Linked DNA regions of Homo sapiens. The protein of the gene in region 1 interacts with the protein of each later gene in a pairwise test. Each region holds a gene or a part of one and is shown in the gene's direction. Other genes may lie near its edges.

Region 1 (7,864 bases):
GGTTGAGGGGTCAAGCTGGAAGAGACAGAGCAGGAAGGCCCAGTGTATCAACTTAGCATTGGCAAGAGGCACAGGGGCTAGGCCCTACTGCTCAAGTTATGATCTGGATTGTTCATGCTTTTGGATTCTCTGAAGAGAAGACTACTGTCTGTCTGGTATGAAGAAAGGCACAAAAGGACTTTTTAAGCAGAGCTAATCCTTGAAAACTGTGCTTATTTCAAACTGTCTTATCTGTGGAGCCTGGAGGACAAAGCATCCCAACCCCCGCAAAGTCACTCACCCATTCTCTTAATTCTCCATAAACTCACGGAAAGATCTTCAGGAAACATAGAGAATTGAGTTATTTAAAGAGATTTGAAAGCACTCACATACAAGAACAAAGCCAGGTGATTTTTCTTCCCAGAACAAAATTTGGCAAAATGGCATGACCAAGCAGATGCTTCCTGGTGGAGAAGAGGAAGCCTTCAAATAGACACACTTAAGTGAAACCAGGAAGAGAAAGAATGGACGAGGGTGGTGGGGAAGGAGAGAAAGTGATGAAGGAAGAGAAACAGCCACAGAATTGGTGGATTTCTGGGGTGTGACAATGACACACCCAATCCATCGACGGGTGGTGCCAGATCTACTGGAGTGGGCTCTTAGTCATGTTATTATTGCAAAACCTTTTTTCTCTTCCAAGTAGTTGACCCTGGCGGGGCCTAGAGCAGCCACCAGCAGGAAGCTGGCCCAAACAATGATTCCCTACAGGAAGGTCCCCGGTTGACTCTTGCCTGACCTTTCTGCCCTCTTCCCAAACAACATTTCCTCTTACTGCCAAGCCCCGCTCTCCGCCACCACACACTGAGAATCACTAACCCAGAAGTGGAGCATAAAGATTCAGAAAACAAAACACAACACATAGTAAAGAACAAAAGTAATCAGTGATCCAAGTTGTTCATGAAGAAAATCAGGCCATGTTAGTTTTTATTAATTCAAGGAATATTTATTGTCTATCTACTATCTGTCATTGCAACGGCATTGCAAAGAGACTGTTCACACATCAAATTTATACTTTCCAATGTGTCCAAAAGAAAGAAAATTGCTATATTAAAGAGATGTCTGTGCTCCCATGTTTATTACAGCACTACTGACAAGATTTAGAAGCAACCTAAGCATCCATCAACAGTAGAATGGATAAAGAAAAAGTGGCACAGGTCAGGCGCGGTGGCTCATGCCTGTAATCCCAGCACTTTGGGAAGCCAAGGAGGGCGGATCACGAGGTCAGGAGTTCAAGATCAGCCTGGCCAACATGGTGAAACCCTGTCTCTACTGAAAATATGAAAATTAGCTGGTCATGGTGGTGGGTGCCTGTAATCCCAGCTACTCGGGAGGCTGAGGCAGGAGAATCGCTTGAACACAGGAGGTGGAGGTTGCAGTGAGCCGAGATCGCGCCATTGCACTCAAGTCTGGGTGACGAGAGTGAAACCTGTCTTAAAAAAAAAAAAAAGTGGCACATATACACAACGGAGTACTATTCAGTCATGAAAAGAATGAGATCTTGTCATTTGCAACAACGTGGATGAAACTGGAGGTCATTATGTTAAGTGAAATACGCCAAGCACAAAAAGACAAACTTTGTGTATTCTCACTTACTTGTGGGAGCTAAAAATTCAAACAATTGAACTCATGAAGATAGAGAGTAGAATGATGGTTATCAGAGGCTGGGAAGGGAAACGGGGGAGTAGGGGAAAAGTGAGGACGCTTGATGGGTACCAAAAATAGTTAGAAAAATGAATAAGACCTAGTGTTTCATAGTATAACAGAGTGACTATAGTCAATAATAATTTACTTGTATAATTTATAATAACTAAAAAATAGTATAATTGGAATGTTTGTAACACAAAGGATAAGTGCTGGAGGTGATGGGTACCCCATTTACCCTGATGGGATATGTACACCTATATCAAAATATCTTATGTACCCCATAAATCTATATACCTACTATGCACCCACAAAAGTTAAAAGTTAAAATTTTTTTAAATGTATATTTTCCCTTCTTTTTTACTGTCTGCCACAGAAAGTTTTGTCAACATTCAACAAATACTCTAAACCCAGCAACTTCCCTTAACTACTCTGATGTGATGCTTCTATTTGAAAAACACAAAACAGTATATTTTCTTGAATGAACAGAAGATAGAATACCCAAGTTCTGTTCTCAATTCTGTAAAGATTCATCAGGAGCCATATGCCATGCATTTCAGTATTTGGTTTTCCTACTAGTCTAAAAACCTGCAATATGTTAATCTGAAAAATATTTAAATACTAATAATCTATCCCCCACACACACAAAAAAAAATTGATGGTTACTATCTGCAAATCATTCTGCACTTATTATTAAAATCATATTCTATAAGGAAATATAGCTTTTATATGTTTCTTTACAGGTAGAAATAAACTTCTAATCACAAACTATTCAAAATTTGAACTGGGAGCCCAGACACCTAAGATTCAGTCTGTCTCTCTCTCTCTGTCTTTTTTTTTTTTTTTTTTTTGAGATGGAGTCTCGCACTGTCGCCCAGGCTGGAGTGCAGTGGCACAATCTCTGCTCACTGTAAGCTCCACCCACCGGGTTCAAGCAATTCTCCTGCTTCAGCCTCCGAAGGAGCTGGGATTTAAACGTGCTTTCAGCCAAATGCAAGTCTTTATGAAAATTGAAAGATTACATTTCATAGTTTTAAAAGGGAGAAACACTCTGTGACTGTTCCTCCCATTGCCAGCATTTGCATACCATTTAATCATTAGGGTTTAGTTTTCTTTGGTTTCACAGCTTTAGGGATGGGCGAGGCAGGATGACCAACACATTATGTGTGGTGCATTTTTTAGCTACTTTAGAAGGGCGTTATAAAAATTACTCCCAGCTTAACAATTTAAAATTTTGTACACCATGTACCCCTTGGAGATATGTCACCCTAAATATGAAGAAGAGTAACATCATACTCCTGTGAAAACAGTACAGGTAGATCATAAAAGCCACATAAGAGCTACATAGTAAAGTGAATGATTACCTATTTAATCATGTGTCCCAATAAAATGCAATTTAAGGAAAAATTTAAAGCAGAACATTGTTTAACAAATAATTGAATATAAAGATTAAGGTGTGAACATAGTTTAACAGAGACTGGCAAAAGAAGGAAGAAATTCTTAAATAAACAAAAGTCAGCTACTTAAGTTTAAAGCTAAGGAGGATACAAACTATTTCTGGAAGCACCTGTTTTTTAAGACTTTTTAAAAATTGTGGTAAAATACATATAACATAAACTTATCATCTTCATCATTTATAAGTTTACAGTTCAGTAGTCTTAAGTGTACTGACATTGTTGTGCAACCAATCTCCCAAACTCTTTTCTTTTTTTTTTTTTTAGACGAGTCTCACTCTGTCTCTGAGGCTGGAGTCCAGTGGCACAATCTTGGCTCACTGCAACCTCTGCCTCCCGGGTTCAAGCAATTCTCTGCCTCAGCCTCCCAAGTAGCTAGGATTTCAGGCGCCTGCCACCATGCCTGGCTAATTTTTTGTATTTTTAGTAGAGACGGGATTTCACCATCTTGGCCAGGCTGGTCTCGAACTCCTGACCTCAGGTGATCCACCTGCCTCGGCCTCCCAAAGAGCTGGGATTACAGGTGTGAGCCACCACGCCTGGCCCCAAACTCTTTTCATATTGCAAAATTAAAATTCTATGCCCAGTAAGCAACAACTGTCTATCCCCAACCCTTCGGCCACTGGCAACTACCATTCTACTTTCTGTCTCTGTGAATTTGACTACTCTAGGCACCTCATAGTACTGGAATTATACAGTATCTGTCTTTCAAAAAGACACTATTAAACCGGTGAAGTGACTAGAAGACATGAATGGAAACAGTCTAAAATACAAAGGGACAAAAAGCCATGAAGCACAAAGGGAGCTCAGGAGGGTTCAGAATCTATAAAATAACTCCAATTGTAACACTAGTTATCAGAAGTAGATACAAATCCTCTTTTATCTTTAAAACGAAGGCAGGAGATATCTGCATCATCTCTTCATTTCTTGAAATTTGACTCAAAAAGGAAGTTGCTGTCTTTATATCAGACTAGAATTCAACCAGAAAGAAAATCGTATTAAAACAATCTGCCTAAAAGCTTTTCAATCTTTCTTAGACATTAGCTACTTGAATAAACATGTTGCTGAGATGTAATAATACTTACCTAGAAAACTATTATTTATGTTTTTCTTATGAACTATAAAACATAATTGTTACAAATTATATGCTTTTTTGTATATTATACAAAATACAAAAAAAGAAAGCAATAACTTAAAATCACAAACTTCAACAACCTTAAAAAACACGCTGATTGAAATAATCAAAGAGATGGATGCTTAATCAAATCTGAAATTATTGCTGATGTGAAAGCTAATTTCAACTTTTGAGAACAATATGAACAAAAAAGTTACATGATTGATGGGAAATTTTTATTCTCATCATATTAAGTATTTTAATTACATTTGTTAACCTGGAGATATTCTCTGCAAATGTGAAATCATGAAGCAAATTTAATAGAACTACACTTCCAGAGAAAAGTTACCAATCATCAAAACCTCTGAAAGATTAAAACTGTAATTCTGAAAATTTTTTTGTTTTGCTCCACTTTATTCTTTTTTTATTGATATAGTAAATGTCCCAGGGCTCTGACCTAGCTTCAGAGAAGTGTTCAAGAAACAGAAATTATCCAATTACGGATTACCAAAACTGTAACAGGGATTAAGAAGTGACAGAGAAAAGGAACACCCTCGAAGTGTGTATATAAAGGCCAAAAAGGCAGCCTTGAATACACTCTTCGTCATCACCTCTCCTATTCGCCTGGACAAGCTCATGTTTGCAGGAGCACCATGTCTTGCTCGTCTCGCGCCTCCTCCTCCAGGGCTGGAGGCAGCAGCTCAGCCAGGGTGTCTGCTGGTGGAAGCAGCTTCAGCAGTGGAAGCAGATGTGGTCTGGGGGGCAGCTCGGCCCAGGGCTTCCGAGGAGGAGCCAGCAGCTGCAGCCTGAGTGGGGGGTCTAGCGGTGCTTTTGGGGGCAGCTTTGGAGGGGGCTTTGGTAGCTGCTCAGTAGGGGGTGGTTTTGGGGGAGCTTCAGGCTCTGGGACAGGATTTGGTGGGGGTTCTAGCTTTGGCGGGGTCTCTGGATTTGGCAGGGGTTCTGGATTCTGTGGGAGTTCTAGATTCAGCAGTGGTGCTACTGGAGGCTTCTACAGCTATGGTGGTGGTATGGGAGGTGGTGTTGGCGATGGGGGGCTTTTCTCTGGAGGGGAAAAGCAAACCATGCAGAACCTCAATGACCGCTTGGCCAATTACCTAGACAAGGTCAGAGCCCTGGAGGAGGCTAACACTGATCTGGAGAACAAAATCAAGGAGTGGTATGACAAATATGGGCCTGGGTCTGGAGACGGTGGATCGGGAAGAGATTATAGCAAATACTATTCAATAATTGAAGATCTCAGAAACCAGGTGAGACTATCTGTGCCTGAGTTTCTATTATTTGTGGATCTTTCACTTCTTTTCAGATCATGTACTATAATGAAAATTTTAAGAAATTATTTGAAAACATATTTGCTTGTTACATATGCAAAGTGGGACCTGATGTGTCTTAATTATTATAGTACCTTATGTGATGTCCAATCACATTAATTTTCTGTTTCCATCTCAGTTTCAGTATTTCTACATAACAGTAAAACTTATACAACACCAGGCAGCTAATTATCATTTATATATAAGAATGGTGGCAGTGAGTCAACATTAGTTTAATCTAATTATTTATGATGAATTCTGACAGACTGACACATTTTATTGTCTTACAAGATTTAAATATTCTTTAGTATTATTTTTCTTCCCAGAAAATCTGGTGCAAACATTACATAAGAATGTAGTAGAATCTAAAATGTTTAGCCACTTTTGTATGGGAAATATATTTTTAAAGACTTTTTTGGAAGTGAAATACAATTTTTGCACTATTTTCTGAAAAAGCTCATGAGATAATGATCTAACAAAGTAGCAGAAATATGCAGAGGACTATGTCCTGTAAAACAGGTTCCTGTGCCTAGTCCAATAAATGTGCAGACTGTTATCTTTTTGCAGAAAGATGTAGTCCTAAATATACCAGCCCCAGATATACAGGTCTGGGGCTGTATACTTAGTCATTACTAAGTAAGTTTGCAAAGCAAGTCACCTTTAAAAGCTAATAGCACAGGCCGGGCACGGTGGCTCACACCTGTAATCCCAGCACTTTAGGAGGCTGAGGCGGGCAAATCACTTGAGGTCAGGAATTTGAGATTAGCCTGGCCAACATGGTGAAACCCCGTGTCTACTAAAAACACACACACAAAAAAAATTAGCCGGGCATAGTGGCACGCCCCTGTAATCCCAGCTACTCAGGAGGCTGAGGCTCAAGAATCGCTTAAACATGGGAGGCGGAGGTTGCAGTGAGCTGAGATCTTGCCACTGCACTCCAGCCTGGGCGACAGAGCGAGACTCTGTCTCTACACACACACAAAAAAAAGAGCTAATAACACAGGCAACAGCTACCCTTACAAGTAGGCATGCAGACACAAGGTAAAAATCATTCGTGATTCACTCACTATTAACATCTTTTTTAGATCATTGCTGCCACTGTTGAAAATGCTGGGATCATTTTGCACATTGACAATGCCAGATTGGCTGCTGATGACTTCAGACTGAAGTAAGAAACATAAAGACTTGAAAACAAGTGTTACGGGAGAAAAATAAATTTTATTCCATTTTATAAATAAATATATATATATATATATATATATATATATATATATATATATATATATATATATATACTAGAGGATCATGACCTAAATTTACAAACATCCCAAGGGTAAACTTTAGACCATTAGACAAATCTCCACTGATGCTGGGGCAGGTAGATCCTCTCTGCTGAGCACCTAAGCCAGTAGCTACACACCGGCCGCTTCTGCTCCTTTCATCAGCCTACAACAGCTGCAAAAGAAAAAAGAAAAAGAAAAAAGAAAGAGGCAAATTTAGAATGAGAATTTTATTATTAAAAATGTTAGACATGATTAGAATTAACATTACATTGGTATTTTTCTTTACAAGGGAAAATTTCCCAAGAGAAAACTTAATAACCTTTATTTATTAAAATGCCCACAAGTGAGAACTTTTTCAATATGTAAGAATGGAAGGTACCCTTTGAAACACGGCCAGGTGAGCTCACAGTATTTTTTGCCTTACTGCTGCCCCTTCCAGGTATGAGAACGAGCTGTGTCTCCGGCAGAGCGTGGAGGCTGACATCAATGGCCTGCGGAAAGTCCTGGATGACCTGACTATGACCCGCTCTGACCTGGAGATGCAGATTGAGAGTTTCACCGAGGAGCTAGCCTACCTGAGGAAGAACCACGAGGAGGTAGGAACATGTTCTACATAAACGAATAACTCTAGCTAACATATTTCTCCCCATATGCATTCTATACAAATAAAATTGGCTGGGTGCAGTGGCTCATGCCTTTAGTCTCAGCTACTCTGGAGGCCGAGGCAGGGGGATCCCTTGAACCCAGGAGTTGGAGGCCACAGTGAGCTATGATCATGCCACTGGATTCCAGCCTGAGCAACAGAGAGATACTGTGTCTCTAAAAAAGTAAAATAGGCCTGGCACGGTGGCTTATGCCTGTAATCTCAGCACTCTGGGAGGCCAAGGCAGGCAGATCATGAGATCAGGATTTCGAGACCAGCCTGACCAACATGGTGAAACCCCCTCTCTACTAAAAATACAAAAATAAACAGGGCATGATGGCGCACACCTGTTGCACCTGTAA
Region 2 (7,567 bases), on another chromosome or scaffold:
CCCAAGTAGCTGGAACTACAGGTGGGCGCCACCATGCCCAGCGATTTTAATATCTTGACAATGAGGCTTTATTGTTGAAACTGACTATAATGGAACAGAAAAAAATTCTTCCTAAAAATTTATACCAGTGGCCGGGCACGGTGGCTCACACCTGTAATCCCAGCACCTTGGGAGGACAAGGTGGGTCGATCACGAGGTCAGGAGATCGAGACAATCCTAGCCAATATGGTGAAACCCTGTCTCTATTAAAAATACAAAAATTAGCTGGGCATGGTGGCACACACCTGTAGTCTCAGCTACTCGGGAGGCTGAGGTGGGAGAATCACTTGAACCCAGGAGGCGGAGGTTGCAGTGAGCTGAGATCGTGCCACTGCACTCCAACCTGAGTGACAGAGCAAGACTCAGTATCAAAAAAAAAAAAATTATACCAGTGGCCTAAAAGTTTTCAGATAAACATTACATTAATAAAAGCTGAATATATGCCTTGATATCAATTACGCAATTACTACATTACTAATATATATATTATTAAACAAAAGAAACTGAAAAGGGCATCAAAGATCTCTTTATTTCCCATATGCCAATAATTCATCTCTACCACCTCCATCACCTTCCCGGCTGCACTCTCCCTTATGTAGAGGGCCGTGCTCTTGACTTTGCTGAAAAGAATGACTCTGGGTGAGGAGAGGAAGCATACTCATTCAGAGAGCAATTTCTGTTCTCATTACCACCCTCCTCGCTCCTACGTGTATTTCATCGAACCTCTCCTAATGCTCAGAGACTTGTGGAAGATGGTGACGGTGACTCATGGTGCAAGTGATGCTCAGCGTTCAGTGGCTTGCTGCAGGTCATGACAAGTGTGTGGCCAAGCTGGAATCAGAGCCCACGTCAGTCTAACTTCATCCATGAGACATGATGCTTTCCTCAGCCTGTGAACTTTGGCAAAAATCCGAAGTTTATTTGCTCAGGATTCACTGATTTCAGTTAAACCAGCCCGTTCCTTTTGCTGAGGGTATTCTGTCTGGTGAAAACCGATAGGGCTTGTCCCGGTGTTGTAATAGGTGAGGTGAAGGTGACCTCTTAATTCTGCTGGAATTGTTAGGAGGATTATCTTCCTTACAAAAGAGTGCAAGCAAACTGAACATGTTGGGTTCAGATAAGCATGCACTGACTTACAACAACAAATGGGTAACTGTGCTATCATGAGGTCGACCATAATGTTTGATTCTTTTTTTTTTTTTTTTTTGAAACAGAGTCTTGCTCTGTCGCCCAGGCTGGAGTGCAGTGGCTGTGATCTCGGCTCACTGCAACCTCTGCCTACCGGGTTCAAACGATTCTCCTGCCTCAGCCTCCCAAGTAGCTGGGATTACAGGTGCCCGCCACCATGCCCAGCTAATTTTTATATTTTTAGTAGAGACAAGGTTTCACCATGTTGGCCAGGATGGTCTTGATCTCTTGACCTTGTGATCCAACTGCCTCGGCCTCCCAAAGTGCTGGGATTACAGGCATGAGCCACAGTGCCCGGCCCCCATAATGTTTGACTCTTAATTTTTTTTTTTTTTTTTTGAGACAGAGCTTTGCTCTTGTTGCCCAGGCTGGAGTGCAGTGGCGCGATCTCGGCTCACTGCAACCTCCACCTCCTGGGTTCAAGTGATTCTCCTGCCTCAGCCTCCTGAGTAGCTGGGCATGCGCCCACGCCCGGCTAATTTTGTATTTTTAGTAGAGACGGGGTTTCTCCATGTTGATCAGGCTGGTCTCGAACTCCGGAACTCAGGTGATCCGCCTGCCTCGGCTTCTCAAAGTGCTGGGATTACAGGCGTGAGCCACTGCGCCTGGCCTGATTCTTAAGTTTTAATGCTTTCTTAAGCAAGGAAGAAGCAGTTGAACATGACTTCTGGACCTCTTAGAGCTGTGGGAAGTAAACCAGTGAGAGCCAAGCCCCTGCTTCTAATGGAGCAGCCTTGGAGAAAAGGAGCCAGAGAGAAGCCACACCTTCCAGATGAGTGATAACACTGGGACCACAACCAGCACACCCCCGCCTCCAGCTGTTCTTTTCTGGAATGGGAGGAGGTGGTAGTCTCCTGCCGCAGATTTGGTCCAAAGTAACAAATACAGCCTTGTTTGGCACCAGCCATACTCATCCCACCCAGAAGCCGAGAGTATGCCAGCCTGGGGCGAGTGGTGAAGGTGATGTGGCTAACAAAGGGGACAGGACTGTTTTTGTTTTGTCCTGGTTTTTTGAGACCGAGTCTTGCTCTGTTGCCCAGGCTGGAGTGCAGTGGCACGATCTTGGCTCACTACAGCTTCCGCCTCCTGGGTTCAAGCAATTTCCGGCTAATTTTTGTATTTTTAGTAGAGATGAGGTTTCCCATGTTGGCCAGGCTGGTCTCGAACTCCTGACCTCAAGTGATCCACCCGCCTCGGTCACCCAAAGTGCTGGGGATACAGGCATGAGCCAGAGTGCCCGGCTGGGATACGACTGTTATAAGTTCATGAAATGACTCAGGAGAACAATGACTCACTCATTCATAATTGTATTTGTTCTTTGACAGTGAAAAAAAACTACATTTCTTCAGGATTTTCATTTTAATGAAAAGTTTTCCTATGAAAAATCTAACTACCTTAAAATGATCTGTGTTCCTTGTAATGTGATTACTCTAGCCCTATGAAAGCATCTCGTGATAAATTGTCATACAAATTTGAGGCATCTTTTTTGTAAATTGTCAAGCCATTTGATTAATATTTAATAAGGACAAATAATTATAATAAGGAAATATCATGAAATTTGGCACCCGATTCAAATTCCATATCTTCAATTTTCTGCACCCAGTGCTCTTGGTCAATTACTTAATCCCGTGACTTAATCTCTACGTCATCTACTTCATCAGCTGCAGATGTACCTCACGGGGTTGGAGCATGCAACAGGTGGGGCATGTAACAGTAAATAAGGGTTTAGCACACTTTTTTGTAATGTTTTTAGAATTATCTTAAAATATTGACTCTTCTAGAATTAATAATTTAATTATTAATAAATATTTATTTAATAGTAAAACAGGCTTTAATAAGTATTTATTTAAGCATTTAATACTCTAAAACAGGCTTTAAGAGACTTCAAAACCTGACAATATGCTTGATGTTTATTTTCCATTTGATTCAAAGATTACAAAGTTTTCTTGTCAAGATGAGTAAGCTCAAGAGTTATGAAAGCTCAAGGGATGGTGAGAGTAAATGACAGAGTATCTGACAACAAGTATGTGTGAGTATCTTCACAGACGTTGGCCGTACCCAGGCTTAGAAGAGAAAGGAAGATTGGATTAGAAAAATAAGAGAAGTAAAGGAGGATGGACTGGCTGAGGAGGGGAGGGGGCACAGGAATAAATGTGGTCTATTTGAAGAAAGCTGGGGAATTGGGTTTTGGAAAAGAGAGTGGGTGTAGGTAATCATCTGAGATAAGAGAAAGGGTGTATGGCCAGGCGCGGTGGCCAGAACTTTTGGAGGCCAAGGAGGGTGGGTCACCTGAGGTCAGGAGTTTGAGACCAGCCTGGCCAACATGGTGAAACCCCATCTCCACTAAAAATACAAAAATTAGCTGGGTGTGGTGGGCGCCTATAATCCCAGCTACTCGGGAGGCTGAAGTGGGAAAATTGCTTGAACCTGGGAGGCGGAGGCTGCAGTGAGCCGAGATCGCTCCACCGCACTCCAGCCTAGGCAACAGAGTGAGACTCTCATCTAAAAAAAAAAAAAAAGAAAGAAAAAAGAAAAAGAGAAACGGTGTATTGAGATTCCATAAGGTAGAACCAGGTTCTGAAAGATCAGATAAGCAAAGCAGAAGAATTCTCATTATCCTGTCAGCAGCATAAAGAAAAAAACTCCCTGGTTTGATTAGCAGGGGATTGACTGACTGATGCAATAAAAACCCTCGGGGACAAAACTATAAAACTTAGAAAGCTGTGAAGAGTTCCTCCTCACTGAAGCCAAATATCAAGTATGAATTATCTGGGATTGTTCCCTGACCTCCCATCTGTGACAGATTCCATAGGCAGTTATCCCTACTCTTGGTTTTTCTTTCCACAGATACTGGAATGAACACTTCTCCAGCAAACGTTCTAGAAACTAACAAGTCAGGCATTATTTTCTACTAAGGAACAAACACAGTCTTGAGTGTTAGCTCGAAGGCTTCTTTCCTGTGAAATTGTCAATATACACTAGATTCATTAAGAAAGAAAACCCCAAACCTTAAGGAGCTAGAGGTGTTAGGCACTGTACATGGCACTGGAGATAAAACAAGATATTTATCCAACCAAGGTCAGGGCTATTAAGCATTTTCTGGGAGTCCATTAAAAATGTAAATTACGGACCCCACCGTAGATTTCTGGAATCAGAGACCCTGTGAAGAGGCTTGCGTTTTAATAAACTCAGGTGGTTCTAATGAGATTAATTGTGTGAATATGATAAGAAACTTCACAGACGCCTTCCTGATGGTGTGAGGGCGGGGCTGAGGGAGGAATTGAACAGATAAAATCTCTTCAGTCTCCACTGTTCCAGCTTTTTCCCTAAAGGAAATACCTTGGTTCGGTGTGGTGACTCATTCCTGTAATCCCAGTACTTTGGGAGGCTGAAGCAGGCAGATTGCTTGAGCCCAGGAGTTCAAGACCAGCCTGGGAAAAATACTGAAACCCCGTCTCTACAAAAAATACAAAAATTAGCCGGGTGTGGTCGTGCAGCGCCTGTAATCCCAGCTACTCAGGAGGTCAAGGTGGGAGAATCACTTGAGCCTGGGAGCTCGAGGCTGTAGTGAGCCGAGATTGCGCCACTGCATTCCAGCCTGGGTGACAGAGCAAGACCCTGTCTCAAAAAAAAAAAAAAAAAAAAAAAAGGAAATACCCAGGATTGCTACAAAGAAAGTAAGTGAGATTTTCTCTATAGATCATTTTCTTAATAATTGTTTCTTTAGATTTCTAAACTTGATCTTAGAATCTATGTGTGTGTGTGTGTATCTGTGTGTTATCAGGAAAAAGCCTGAAGAAAAATATTAGGAAAAACAAAATAAGGGTAGACAACATGCTGGGGACTTAATTCGTCAATTTTCCTTTGCTGTTTCTGTAAAAATATTTAGTCTCTGTCCCTCTCTCATTACACCTTCAATTTTTACTGGTTTAACATAAAATATCGTTTACAATATTTATTGTGCATCGAGTATGTCAGATGTAGACACAGGGCATCTCAAGGACTTAGTTTCTTATGGATGGAGAGTGACCCACAAGTAAACTTGTTCATAGAAAGATAAAATCTTTTCGCTACTAAGAAAATAAAATAAGGAGATGAGTAGTGGGAAGGTATTTCAAATTGAGTAGTGATGGAAAGGTCTCTCTTGGGAAGACATTTGAGCTGAGAACTGAAGAGAAGAAAGAAGAGGCAGCTGGAATTGCAAAAATATGAGAGAAGAGCTCTGTTGGCCACGGAAGGGGGAAGGGCTGTGATGAATTAGAGGCAGCTAGATTGACAGTGATGGGGGAAAGCTATAGAGAGATCAGAAGAAGGCAGGAGGCCAGATTGTATAGGACGGGGTTATTACCCACTTCGATCTTACTCTAATGCCATAGAAAGTGACCACAAACCTGCTCACTTGGTTTTGGTTTTAAAATAGTATTCTGGTGGTTGAGCAGAGAGGAGCTGGAGATGGACGAGGAGGGCAGGACAGAATATAAATTTGGAAAACAATAGTTGAATTGGTGAAAGGAAGGCTTAAACTGTGGCTCTAAAGGAATGAGTTTGGGGGAAGAGAGCCACTGGGTTGAGATCCTGAGCGGCTTTAGATATGTTAATTTTGAGTGCTCCTTAGACATTCTATTGCAAAAATGTTGGGAATTGGGCAGGAGATTGAAATCGGAGAATGGAACTTAAATCTTCAGAAACGAGTAAGATTACCTAGGGAGAGACCAGGACTGGGAGACCAGAACTCAACCTTGAAGCACCCCAAGATTGAGAGGTTCAGAGGATGTGGGACCAGAAAAGGCCACGGAGAACAAGACCAGACAAGTTAGAGGAATGTCAGCTGCAGACAGATGAGAGAAGAAAACATTCTAGGAAGAAGGGTGTGGTCAGCTATGTTAACTGCTGCTGAGAGCTCAAGGAAAAATTTGAGTTGGTGAATTTCTTTGTTTTGGTGACTCAGTGGAGTCATCTCGGACATGTTCAGGGACCTAAGACACGGGAAACCAGCAGGGATTTCAAAGACCTAAGCAGAAGAAAGGATGAGAGCATCAAAAACAAGGAAGGAGGGAGAAAGTATTTGCAACTCACACAATTTACAGGAACTTGGATCTATAGCTCTCTCTTAAAATTGACCCCTCCCTCCAAAAAGGCCAAACCTGATGGAATAAACTGAGAGAGAGGCTTGAACATAGACTTCACAGCAAAAGAAGTGAAAATGGTTTTTTAGCATATGAAAATAAAAGGCTTAGACATATTAATAATATAACAGATGGAAGTTGAAAATATATGAATACACTATTTCTCACCCAGCCAGTGGGCAATGATCCAAAAGTTTAACATCTTTTTAATTTGTTGCTTGGAGTGCAAAATTGTACAACTTTTGTGCTTGGGAAACTGACAAAACATATCAAAATTATGGATGCATTCATTCACAGTCCTATTTGTGGGGAATATGCCTTTTCAGGCCAAGATTCTCAACTTTTTGGAATCAGTACTCCTTTGCACTCATTATTGACGAAGATCCCAATAAGCTTTTGTTTATGAGCGTTAATATCTATGTTTACTGTATTAGAAATTTAAAACTGCATTTTATAGTTATTCATTTAAAATAATAAAAACAAGCCAGGCACGGTGGGTCACACCTGTAATCCCAGCACTGAGGCTGAGGCGGGCAGATAACCTGAGGTCAGGAGTTCCAGATCAGTGTGGCCAACACGGTGAAACCCCGTCTCTACTAAAAATACAAAAAATTAGCTGGGTGTGGTTTCACGCGCCTGTAGTCCCAGCTACTCGGGAGGCTGAGGCAGGAGAGTCGGTTGAACCCGGGAGGCGGAGGTTGCAGTGAGCTGAGATCGTGCCACTGTGCTCCAGCCTGGGCGACAGAGATTCGGTCTCAAAAATAAATAAATAAGTTAATAAAATAATAAAAACAAAAACATTTTTCTGAGAAAAAAGTTTTCGAGCTAAGTGGCTTTTTTAATAGAGAAAGCCAGAATTACAAAGGACTTAAGAAGGACATTGGGGCCCTTCTTCTTGCCAAAGATGGGCACAACGTCGACAAAGCGCCGGTGGTACCGCACCCGCGGCTCAGCCCGGCCTGTCTTCTCGCTTGGCCACCTTAGCAAGAGTCTGACCTGTCACTTTCCCAGCGCGGGCCGGGGAACCACGGACTTGGCCTCCCGGGCAGTCGGGGCCTCCCACTTCGCCCTGGTCCAGGGTGGCCTCGCCCTGCAGGGACGCGCCTGCCAGGAGCACGATAGATCTTCCGGGGCGAAGCCCTCCAGTGGCGCTGCCTGAGCCGCGACCTGGGAGACCGTCTCCTGGCCGGTCACCTGGAGGGCGTGTAGCTCCG
Region 3 (7,024 bases), on another chromosome or scaffold:
TTATCTACTCATGGGCCCTTAGGATATAACTATTAAAAGACTTGGAATTAGCTGGGCATGGTGACACGTGCTTGTAGTCCCAGCTACTCAGGAGGCTGAGGTAGGAGGATCTCTTGAGTTCAGGAGATCAAGACTGCAGTGAGCTATGATCCCACCATTGCATTCAGCATGGGCAACAGAGTGAGACACTGTCTCTAAAAAAGAAGTTAAGGGGCCGGGCGTGGTGGCTCACGCCTATAATCCTAGCACTTTGGGAGGCCAAGGCGTGTGGATTGTCTGAGCTCAAGAGTTCGAGACCAGCCTGGGCAACATGGCGAAACCCTGTCTCTACTGAAAATATAAAAAATTATCCAAGTATGGTGGTGTGTGCCTGGAGTCCCAGCTACTCAGGAGGCTGAGACATGAGAATCACTTGAACCTGGGAGGCGGAGGTTGCAGTGAGCTGAGATTGCAGCACTGCACTCCAGCCTGGGTGACAGAGTGAGACTCTGTCTCAAACGAACAAACAAACGAACAAAAAACCCAGCCTGGTCAACATAGCTAGACCCCTGTCTCTACAAAGGAAAAAAAAAAGATTAGCCTGGCTTGGTGGAAAGTGTCTGTAGCCCCAGCTACTCCAGAGGCTGAGTCAGGAGGATCTCTTGAGCCCAGGAGATCAAGGCTGCAGTGAGCCATGATGACATCACTGAATTTTAGTCTGGACAACAGAGCGAGCCTCTGTTTCTAAAGCAAAGGAGACAGTGGGAGCTGAAGGGGAGACTGGAGGCTGTGAGGAGACTGTTGGCAACACTGAGGTGAGGAACCAAGAGGCCCTGTGGATGGAGGGAGGGGATCCATTTAAGAGACACTTAGAGGCTGGTTCAATAGGCCATGGTGACTGGTGACAGGAGGCATGTGAGGGCAGGGGAGAGTTCATTCAGCATTCTTATAGCACCCCACAATTTTTTTTTTTTTTGAGATGGAGTCTCACTCTGTTGCCCAGGCTGGAGTGCAGTGGCACAGTCTTGGCTCACTGCAACCTCCGACTCCCAGGTTCAAGTGATTCTCCTGCCTCAGCCTCCCAAGTAGCTGGGACTACAGGAGCCCACCACCACGCCTGGCTAATTTTTGTATTTTTAGTACAGACGGGGTTTTACTATGTTGGCCAGGCTGGTCTTGAACTCCTGACCTCGTGATCTGCCCGCCTCGGCCTCCCAAAGTGCTGGGATTATAGGCATGAGCCACTGCGCCCAGCCACAATTCTTTTTTTAAAATTTATTTTATGTAATTGATAAATAAAAATTGTATTTATGGTGTACAACATGAGGTTTTGAAATATGTTTATATTGTTGAAGGTCTAAATCAAACTAATTAACATATGCATTACCTCGGTTTTTTTTTTTTTTTTTTTTTGAGACAGAGTCTTGCTCTGTTCCCAGGCTGGAGTGCTGTGGTGTGATCTCAGTTCACTGCAACCTCCGTCTCCAGGGTTCAAGCAATTCTCATGCCTCAGCATCCCAAATGGCTGGGATTACCGGTGCCTGCCACCACACCTGGCTAATTTTTGTATTTTTAATAGAGATGGGGTTTCACCATATTGGCCAGGCTGGTTTCGAACTCCAGACCTCATGATCTGCCCGCCTCAGCCTCCCAAAGTGCGGGGATCACAGGCGTGAGCCACCACTCCCGGTCTTACTTGATTTTTTTTTTTGTAGTGAGAACACTTAAAATCTACTCTTTTATTGATTTTTAAGTATACAATACATTGCTTTTAACTACAGACACCAGATCATACAATAGATCTCTTGAACTTATTTCTCCTCTCTAACTGAAATTTCTTATCCTTTGACCAACATCTCCCTTCTTCTCCCCACAAACCCAGTGAGGACTTGGTAACCACCATTCTACTCTCTGCTTCTATGAGTTTGACTTTATTTATTTATTTATTTATTTAGAGACAGGGTCTTGCTGTGTTGCCCAGGCTGCAGTGCAGTGGCACAATCATGGCTCACTGCATCCTTGACTTCCAGGGCTCAAGTGATCCTCCCACTTCAGCCTCCTGAGCTCTAGGACTGCAGTCATGAGCCACCATGCCTGGCTAATTTTTTTTTTTTTTTCTGAGATGGAGTCTTGTCTCACTGTTGCCCAGGCTGGAGTGCAGTGGCGCGATCTCAGCTCACTGCAAGCTCCGCCTCCCGGGTTCACGCCATTCTCCTGCCTCAGCCTCCTGAGTAGCTGGGACTACAGGCACCCGCCACCACACCCAGCTAAGTTTTTGTATTTTTAGTAGAGATGGGGTTTCACTGTGTTAGCCAGGATGGTCTCGCTATCCTGACCTCGTGATCCACCCGCCTCAGCCTCCCAAGGTGCTGGGATTACAGGCGTGAGCCACCACACCTGGCTGCTGGCTAATTTTTAAAATTTTGGTAGAGATGGGGTCCCATTATGCTGAGTTTGACTTTTTTAAGATTTGGCACATAAGGGAGATTATATGGTATTTGTTTTCCTGTGCCTGGCTTATTTCACTTAACATAGTGTCCTCCAGGTTTATGCATGTTGTTGCAAATGATGGGATTTTCTTCTTTTTAAGGCTGAAGAATGCCATTGTGTATATATACCACCTTTTCTTTATCCATTCTTCTGTTGATGGAATCTTAGGTTGATCTCATATCTTTGCTACTGTGAATATTCCTGCAATGAACATAGGAGTACAGCTACCTCTTCAACATACTAATTTCATTTCCTTTGAATATGTACCCAGAAGTGGGTTGCTGGATCACATAGTAGTTCTACTTGTAATTTTTTGGGGAACCTTGATATTGTTTTCTATAATGACTGTACTAATTTATATTCCCACCAACAGTAAACAGAGATTCCCTTTTCTCCACATCATCACCAACCCTTATCTTTCATCATTTTGGTAATAGTCATTCTAACAGGCGTGAGGTGATATCTTATTATCATTTTATTTTGCATTTCCCAGATGATTAGTGATTAGTGATGAAAAAGACATTTGTATGTCTTTTTTTGAGAAATGTCTATTTGGGTTATTTGCTTATTTTATTATTATTATTATTATTATTATTATTATTATTTTGAGATGGAGTCTCGCTCTGTCGCCCAGGCTAGAGTGCAGTGCCACGATCATAGCTCACTGCAGCTTTGAATTCCTGGGCACAAGTGACCCTCTCACCTCAGCCTCCTGAGTAGCTGGGATTACAGGTGCATGCCACCACATCCAGCTGATTTATTTTTTAACTTTTTATTTGTAGAGATAGGTGTCTTGCTATGTGGCCCAGGCTGGTCTCAACCCCTGGCTTCAGGTGATCCTGCTGCCTCCACCTCCCAAAGTGTTGAGATTACAGGTGTGAGTCACCATGCCCTGACTCTTTGCCTTTTTTTTTTTTTTGAGATGGAGCCTCACTTCGTCACCCAGGATGGAGTGCAGTGGCATAATCTTGGCTCACTGCAACCTCCCCCTCCCAGGTTCAAGTGATTCTCTTGCCTCAGCCTCCTGAGTAGCTGGGATTACAGACGTACATCACGAGGTCTGCCTAATTTTTTTGTATTTTTTTAGTAGAGACAGGGTTTCACCATGTTGGCCAGACTAGTCTCGAACTCCAGACCTCAAATGATCTGCCCGCCTTGGCCTCCCAAAGTGCTGGGATTTCAGGCAACAGCCGTCGCGCCTGGCCTTTGCCCATTTTTTGAGTTATTTGCTTTCTTGTTACTGAGTTACTTGAGTTCACATATTTTGGATATTAACCCCTTTTCAGATGTATGGTTTGCAAATATTTTCTCCCATTCTGTATGTCATCTCTGTTGATTGTTGCCATTGCTGTGCAGAAGCTTTTCAGTTTGATGCAACTTCATTTGTCTATTTTAGCTTTTGTTGCCTGTGCTTTCTGGGTCATAGCCAAAAAACCATTGCCCAGACAAGTGTCGTTAAGCTTTCTTTTGTGTGTGTGTGTGTGTGTGGTGTGTGTGTGTGTATGTGTCTGTGTGTGTGTGGCAGAGTCTCAATCTGTCACCCAGGCTGGAATGCAGTGGCTCAATCATGGCTCACTGCAGTCTTGACTTCCTGGGCTCAGGTGATTCTCCCACCTTAACCTCCCGAGTAGCTAGGACTACAGGTCTGGTCCACCATGCCTGGCTAATTTTTTGTATGTTCAGTACAGATGGGGTTTAAGGCTGAAGAATGCCATTGTATATATAGACCACCTTTTATACACAATATATACACAATATATACCATTGTGTATATATACCATGTTGCTCAAGCTGGTCTCAAACTCCTGGGCTCAAGCGATCCACCTGCATCAGCCCCAAAGTGCTGGGGTTACAGGTGTGAGCCACCATGCCTGGCCTTTTTTTTTGGCTCAAGATTGCTTTTGCTGTTTGGAGTATTTTGTGGTTCTATATTAATTTAAAATTGTTTTTTCTATTTCTGTGAAAAATGTCATTGGAATTTTGATAGGCTTGCATTGAATCTGTAAATTGCTTTGGATAATATGGACATTTTAACAATATTAATTCTTCCAAAGCACCCTTCATTTCTTTTTTCTTTCTTTCTTTTTTTTTTTTTTTTTGAGATGGAGTTTTGCTCTTGTTGCCCAGGCTGGAGTACAATGGCGTGGTCTCGGCTCACTACAACCTCTGCTTCCCTGGTTCAAACAATTCTCCCACCTCAGCCTACTGAGTGGCTGGGATTACAGGCATATGCCACCACGCCTGGCTAATTTTGGCATTTTTAGTAGAAACAGGGTTTCACCATGATGACCAAGCTGGTCTCAAACTCCTGACCTCAGGTGATCCGCCTGCCTCCACCTCCCAAAGTGCTGGGATTACAGGCATGAACCACCGTGCCTGGCCTGGAAGCAGGAGACTTCTAGAAAGAGTAGGGAAAGGCCTTGAGCTGGGACCGAGGGCTGAGCCTCCAGGGCAGTCTCTGTCATGGACTTCCATGACAAACCCTACTCCCAGGACACTGGCTCTGGACACTGCAGCCCCTCCCCACAGGCTTCCATATTCCCTTATCCAGCCCCTGGCCCTCCGTGAGGCTCCTGCTGCCCGTGAACCTCTCATTCCCCTTCCCTTTCTCACCCAAGGAGCCTGCTGCAGGCCTGGGAGCGGCAGCGGCAGGAGGAGCGGCAGCAGGCCGAGCTGCGGCGGGCCCGGACACAGCATGTACAGCGGCAGGTGGCCCACTGCCTGGCAGCCTACGCACCCAGAGGGAGCCGGGGCCCTGGGGCGGCCCAGCGCAAGCTGGAGGAGCTGAGGTAGGGAGCCTGGGCTTCGGGAGGCCTGGTTGGGAGAGGGCAGGGAGGCCGTGTCAGGTCTCAGTCTACAGGACCGAGGAGCACCAGCCCTCGCCTTCCCTGGGGCTAACCAGGCCACTTCACCGCGTTTCCAGATAAGGACGCTGAGGCATGGGGAGAAGGGGTCTGTCGAAGGCCACCCAGTTAATAATGACAATCTCTGCAGCTGTTGAATGGTCAAGGTTAAAATATTCTACATGTATGATCACACTTTCAAATCTTCATTTTCTGATTTCCAATGCCAGACATGCTTGTTATAAAATTTCAAAGATTACAGAAATAATGCCTGGAGAAGGTGAACAGCCGTGTGACCCCACTCTGGGAGACAACCATTGTTCACAGTCAGCTGAAGAGTCGCGTTTTGTTCTCTTCCTATATTGTGACCATTTTCCTTTTTTTTTTTTTTTGAGACGGAGTCTCGCTCTGTCGCCCAGGCTGGAGTGCAGTGGCGCGATCTCGGCTCACTGCAATCTCCGCCTCCCAGCTTCACGCCATTCTCCTGCCTCAGTCTCCCGAGTAGCTGAGACTACAGGCGCCCGCCACCACGCCCGGCTAATTTTTTTTTTTTTTTGTATTTTTAGTAGAGACGGGGTTTCACCGTGTTAGCCAGGATAGTCTCGATCTCCTGACCTCGTGATCCACCCGCCTCAGCCTCCCAAAGTGCTGGGATTACAGGTGTGAGACACTGCACCTGGCCGTGACCATTTTCCTAATAAGCAGATTTGTGGGCAAACGTTTTTGGACTCCTAACAGGTCCGTGAAGCAGGGAGTATTGCTGCTGGTGGGCCAGGTCAGGTTCTTCCCTTGGCCGCACAAAAGAAAAAGTTTATTGCAAAGCAAAGGCCACCCTGACCAACATGGTGAAACCTCATCTCTACTAAAAATACAAAAAGTAGCCAGGTGCGGTGGCACATACCTGTAATCCTAGCTATTCGGGAGGCTGAGGCAGGAGAATTGCTTGAACCCGGGAGATGGAGGTTGCAGTGAGCCGAAATTGAGCCACTACACTCCAGCCTGGGCGACAGAGCAAAAACTCCATCTCAAAAAAAAAAAAAAAAGCCCACCCTGAGGACTGCTCAGAGGGAGAGACGGCAGCTTGTGCCTTAAGAGGAATTCCTTTTATGGAAGTTGTTTATACCTAGTCACAAAATACTGGTGAGGTCAGGTATGCAAAGGTGGACCTGTGGTGGGCGCATGCGCTCAGCATCTGCATGCTCCAACACGCATCACATGTAACATTAGCATATACAATCTCTACCTAGGGGTGTGTTTTTTTACCATCAAAACGAGGAAAATGTTGCTATAAGCTAAACCTTGAGCCTAGCTGTGTATGCGGAACCCCGAGAAGTCCTTAGCTCCCTCCAAGGCAGGAATTTGTAGCTAATAGCTTCTTGGGCTTTTGGTGCTGATTGGCTGGAGATCGGGGAAGCTACATTATGAATAAGGGGCTTTTGTTTTTTTTTTCCTGGGCTGTGCTAGGTATGAGGGAACTTGTAGCCATCTGGTATCCCCTAAGACTGCTTATCTTGCAAAAGAGTTAGGTACTCGGCTGTACGCCGTGGCTCACACCTGTAATCCCAACACTTTGGGAAGCCGAGGTAAGTGGATCACCTGAGGTCAGGATTTCGAGACCAGCCTGGCCAACGTAATGAAACCCCGTCTATACTAAAAAATATATATACAAAAATTAGCTGGGCGTAGTGGCGCGCGACTGTAGTCCCAGCTAC

What was found.
Region 2: the proteins of KRT24 (region 1) and TRIML2 interact in binary tests that used the Homo sapiens proteins (3 or more experiments, as listed by UniProt).
Region 3: the proteins of KRT24 (region 1) and TSGA10IP interact in binary tests that used the Homo sapiens proteins (3 or more experiments, as listed by UniProt).

Annotation. Positions count from the first base shown.
Region 1 is NC_000017.11:40,700,731-40,708,594, reverse strand, and holds the start of KRT24 (keratin, type I cytoskeletal 24), read left to right. Parts: upstream 1-4,842; 5' UTR 4,843-4,901; coding exon 4,902-5,516; intron 5,517-6,661; coding exon 6,662-6,744; intron 6,745-7,298; coding exon 7,299-7,455; intron 7,456-7,864.
Region 2 is NC_000004.12:188,106,580-188,114,146, reverse strand, and holds the start of TRIML2 (probable E3 ubiquitin-protein ligase TRIML2), read left to right. Parts: upstream 1-4,543; 5' UTR 4,544-4,904; intron 4,905-7,567.
Region 3 is NC_000011.10:65,948,480-65,955,503, forward strand, and holds part of TSGA10IP (testis-specific protein 10-interacting protein), read left to right. Parts: intron 1-5,087; coding exon 5,088-5,258; intron 5,259-7,024.